2 linked regions of the Homo sapiens genome follow. The protein of the gene in region 1 interacts with the protein of each later gene in a pairwise test. Each region holds a gene or a part of one and is shown on either strand. Other genes may lie near its edges.

Evidence for each region.
Region 2: the proteins of SELL (region 1) and SLC30A2 interact in binary tests that used the Homo sapiens proteins (3 or more experiments, as listed by UniProt).

The regions. Positions count from the first base shown.
Region 1 is NC_000001.11:169,690,167-169,692,393, reverse strand, and holds the end of SELL (L-selectin precursor), read left to right. Parts: intron 1-591; coding exon 592-610; 3' UTR 611-1,727; downstream 1,728-2,227. UniProt on the Homo sapiens protein: Calcium-dependent lectin that mediates cell adhesion by binding to glycoproteins on neighboring cells. Mediates the adherence of lymphocytes to endothelial cells of high endothelial venules in peripheral lymph nodes.
Region 2 is NC_000001.11:26,039,936-26,043,118, forward strand, and holds part of SLC30A2 (proton-coupled zinc antiporter SLC30A2), read right to left. Parts: intron 2,774-3,183; coding exon 2,614-2,773; intron 1,871-2,613; coding exon 1,765-1,870; intron 1-1,764.

The sequences.
Region 1 (2,227 bases):
TGCCTGTATTCCCAGCTACTCAGGAAGTTGAGGCGGAAGAATCGCTTGAACCCAGGAGGCCGTGGTTGCATGAGCTGCCTCCGTGCCACTGCACTCCGGACTGGGCAACAGAGTGAGACTCCATCTCAAAAATAAATAAATAAATAAATTAAATTAAATTAAATTAAAATAAACATAAATTTAAAAAATCAATCTACACTGTCCTTCAGACTCATTAGATCTGGAGACAAAGACCGTATGCACCACAAAAATTTCTCCAAGTGGGGTCTGTGCGCCAGTGGCATAAGCATCACTAAAGAGCTTGTTAGGGGTGCAGAATCTCAGGCTCCACTCAGACCTACTGAATCAGAGTCTGCATTTTAACACCATCTCTGAGTGGTAAGCACATGAAAATCTGAGAAGTGCTGCTACTAGGGTTTGCTTACATTTGTTCATCTTCAGAGGTTCCTAAAGCCTGGCCTCTTGTCTGAGATTTCCAGCTGAAAGCATTTCCTTGCTCCTCTTCTCATCTCTAATGAATATTTACCTTTACTACTAACACTCCAAGTTTTGCAATTTTTAAACTCTTATTATCTTTTGTTTTTCTTTCAGTATGAATGACCCATATTAAATCGCCCTTGGTGAAAGAAAATTCTTGGAATACTAAAAATCATGAGATCCTTTAAATCCTTCCATGAAACGTTTTGTGTGGTGGCACCTCCTACGTCAAACATGAAGTGTGTTTCCTTCAGTGCATCTGGGAAGATTTCTACCTGACCAACAGTTCCTTCAGCTTCCATTTCGCCCCTCATTTATCCCTCAACCCCCAGCCCACAGGTGTTTATACAGCTCAGCTTTTTGTCTTTTCTGAGGAGAAACAAATAAGACCATAAAGGGAAAGGATTCATGTGGAATATAAAGATGGCTGACTTTGCTCTTTCTTGACTCTTGTTTTCAGTTTCAATTCAGTGCTGTACTTGATGACAGACACTTCTAAATGAAGTGCAAATTTGATACATATGTGAATATGGACTCAGTTTTCTTGCAGATCAAATTTCACGTCGTCTTCTGTATACTGTGGAGGTACACTCTTATAGAAAGTTCAAAAAGTCTACGCTCTCCTTTCTTTCTAACTCCAGTGAAGTAATGGGGTCCTGCTCAAGTTGAAAGAGTCCTATTTGCACTGTAGCCTCGCCGTCTGTGAATTGGACCATCCTATTTAACTGGCTTCAGCCTCCCCACCTTCTTCAGCCACCTCTCTTTTTCAGTTGGCTGACTTCCACACCTAGCATCTCATGAGTGCCAAGCAAAAGGAGAGAAGAGAGAAATAGCCTGCGCTGTTTTTTAGTTTGGGGGTTTTGCTGTTTCCTTTTATGAGACCCATTCCTATTTCTTATAGTCAATGTTTCTTTTATCACGATATTATTAGTAAGAAAACATCACTGAAATGCTAGCTGCAAGTGACATCTCTTTGATGTCATATGGAAGAGTTAAAACAGGTGGAGAAATTCCTTGATTCACAATGAAATGCTCTCCTTTCCCCTGCCCCCAGACCTTTTATCCACTTACCTAGATTCTACATATTCTTTAAATTTCATCTCAGGCCTCCCTCAACCCCACCACTTCTTTTATAACTAGTCCTTTACTAATCCAACCCATGATGAGCTCCTCTTCCTGGCTTCTTACTGAAAGGTTACCCTGTAACATGCAATTTTGCATTTGAATAAAGCCTGCTTTTTAAGTGTTAACTAGTTTGCCTAGTTTGTTATTTTGAAATTATCATATGTTTTGTTTTCTCCCCAGTGAGATTACATGCTCCTTCAGGGCAGAGTTTGTGTCAGATCCCTGGAGTATCTAGTGCATTACTTGACACTCAATAAATGAATGTTCAAATAAATCAGAAAGAGCATACAGTGCACTGCTGATATAAGTTTCAGCAAACCCTCTTTCTCTATGGCATCTGATGACCTGGGCAGATATCACCTAATGTCAACAGCTGAATTCTTATGAGAGAATAGAGCCCTTTCAGAAGCTAGCTGGAAATACCTCCTTGTCCCATGGCCAATATAGATTTCATACAAATTTGCACACATTATGAGAATAATTTTTTGGTAATGATTACACTTTTCTTTCTCAAAGACATCTCAGATTCTGTATTATAGCAAAAGCTGTTGCAAAAGATTCTCCCTATAGTACACTGTAAATCTTGGATGTGCAAATCACATTCATGTGGTTTAGGGTACATCCC
Region 2 (3,183 bases), about 140 Mb from region 1:
ACTAAAGGAAACTACCCCTCCCACGCCTGCCCATTGGTGCAGGGCTGGCTCCTGATCCTCAGGTGTCATCCCCTCAAAGAAGACCTCTTTGGCCTGCAGGTCTGAGGCTGCCTTCACCTCCCAAGGTCTCTGCCCTATCACTCTGTTGTATTTCCTCTCCACTCTTAACACTGAAATTATTTATGAATGTACTTATTGTCAGTTTCTCCCTCTAAAATGGACACTCCATGAGGGCAGGACAGTCTCCTTTGATTACCACAGTATCCTTGGTGCCTAAAACAGCACCTACTCCATAGTAGGTGCTCAATAAATATATTTTTTGGTTTTTTTTGAGACGGAATCTTGCTCTGTCACCCAGGCTGGAGTGCAGTGGCGTGATCTTGGCTCACTGCAACCTCTGCCTCCCTGGTTCAAGCAATTATCCTGCCTCAGCCTCCTGAGTAGCTGGGACTACAGGCGCATGCCACCACGCCCGGCTAATTTTTGTATTTTTGGTAGAGACAGGGTTTCACTGTGTTAGCCAGGCTGGTCTTGAACTCCTGACCTCAGGTAATCTGCCTGCCTCGGCCTCCCACAGTGCTGGGATTACAGGTGTGAGCCACCGCACCTGGCCAATAAATATATTTTTGAATGGAAAGAAGGAAAGAACAGATCCTGAGAATCCTTGGACCCACCCAGGGCACGATCATCATCTTCATCATTATCGCTTTCATCTGGGTTAGCATATTCTTGGAGAAAAAGCTCTGACCTGCAGCCAAATACTGCTAAGCCCAGGCCAGCATCCTACTCCATTCCAGACTGACCCTGACCACGCAGAGGCCTATGACCCTGGCCCAAGACCCCAGGCCTAGAGCATAAGAAAGCCAAGGTGCAGGGCCAGGTGTGGTGGCTCACATCTGTAACTCCAGCACTTTGAGAGGCCGAAGTGAGATGATTGCTTGAGCCCAAAAGTTCGAGACCAGCCAGGGCAACATAGTGAGACCCCCCCCCCATCTCTACAAACATTTAAAAGTTAGCCAGACATGGTGGCATGCGCCTGTGGTCCCAGCTACTTGGGAGGCTGAGGCAGGAGGATTACTTGAGCCTAGGAGGTCAAGGCTGCGGTGAGCCTTGGTGGCACCACTGCACTCTAGCTTGGATGACAGAGCAAGACCCTGTTTCAAAAAAAAGAAAAAAGAAAAAAAAAAGGTAATTCAGGGCAGACCAGATCATTCTCCACCACTGACCGTTCTCCAACCCCACAAAGCACAGCCATGTCCCCACAGGGTGTGGCATTGTTTGGTCCCTGAGATGTAGGAAAGGCCTGCGCTGCAGTGGATTCAGTAGCTTTGTCCAAGGCTGACTGTCCTTCTCTGAGCCTCAGTCTGCCCCTCTGTGCAATGAGAAGCATAATCCTCACCCCCTCTCTCTTCCTGAGAGAAGGCAGCCAGAGCCTGGGGAAGTGTATAGGGGAGGGCTGGAGAGCTCCAGATGCTACAGATGTCCCCCAGAAGCCACCTGACTAGGCAGAGGAGGCACCCTTAGGGGTAGGGGGAAGGGAAGACTCGGGCTGGGGGACGGTTCCAGGAACTGCCACACCTGAAAGCCCAGGCTCTATGTCAAGATCAGCCCAGGGGCCCCAGGAGGTTTTCCAGCCTATGCCGGGGCTCCGGATCCTGGCTCCCCGCCCATGTGCTAGGATGCCCCAGACACACACATACCCTATTTGAGCTGATTAGCGCTTGAGAGCCAAGAGCAAAAAGGGAGCCACAAAGCCCAGGTTACCTTCCATCAACACCAGGATCACATCTCTCAGGATGGTCAAGGTTGTCCCCAGGACCAGGATGGAGAAGACGAAGGTGCAGATGGGGTCTACATACTTGTATTCTGGCTGCAGGAAGACAGGAAGGCAGACCTGGAGTTCACCATCTAACACCTCAGCTTCCCTTCTCCCCTCCCACCCAGCACTGCTGGGGAGAGGTGCTCTCTCTGCTGGGTGGGCATGAGCCTCGCCCTGGCCCTGCCTCCCAGTTTTCTGCTCTTTATTTCACATCTGCAAGAGCAGAAAGGACAGACCACAGTTCAGAATAAGGCAGTCCCTTCCCACCCCTCCTTCTCAAGGAGCTGAGACATGGACAGAGCAAAAAGGCATCTTAGATACCATCTGATCCGCCATCCGTCCCCATTTGACAGATGGGGAAATTGAGGCTCCATTAGAGCAAGCAAACTCATCCAATGTCACATGGCTAGCAAGGAGGAGAGCCAAGCTTCAGAGCAAATGCCTGCCTCTTTCCACTACAGCTCCCTGCCTCTATGTGATGGGCATTGCCCAGGGTTTGACAACACACAGTCGTAGGCTTGAATCTGGCTCTATGCTTTACCGGCTGTGTGACACTGTGCAAGTCACTGAACCTTTCTGAGCTACAGAAAACACTACCACCTACCCTTCAGGTTGTTGTGAGGATCAGAAGTGCTGACACTTGGTAGGTATTGGATAAATGTTCCTTTCCTCTCCCCACCCTTTTCCCTAGAACTGGGAGGGAGCTAGAATCTGAAAAGAAACCCCGGTAGAGAGTATACTCAGGTGGTCTACACTCCCCTGCCACCCCCACCACCCTGTGTCCCAGCTCTGACCTTGAAGTATAAAATATAGGCTGCCACTAGGACACCCATGCTCTGCATAAAGTCGCCGATCACATGGATGAAGGCAGCTCGGACGCTGGGGTTCTCCTCCTGCTGGTTGGTGGTGCCGTGGCTGTGCCCATGGCCAGACTGGTGAAGGGTCAACCCCATTCTATGGAAGTGGAGACAAAGCCAAGGGCTCACTGAGGTCGCAGATGGAGGTCACCTATTAGGACTAGCCAACTTGTAGGGCAAAAATCTCAAGCCCCTAAACCTTGTGATCTCTTTGGCCATGTGAGAAGTCCAACCCACGTGGCCTTGGTTCAGACAGCCATGAGAGATAGGGCCCAGCGCCAATGCCAGGCTGAGCCTGGGCACAACAATGCCACAGTGTCAAATCTCAGAGCAGGAGGGCATTAGGGAGGTCACTGTCAGTTCACTCCATCATGTCACAGATGGGGAAACTGAGGCCTCTGAACAAAGACCCCGAAAGAGACACCCATTGTCTCTAACTGAGACCAATTTCAGACTTGGGTTCTGCCCCTAGGGACAGCTACTCCTGCAACAACTGGCCTCTTCCCG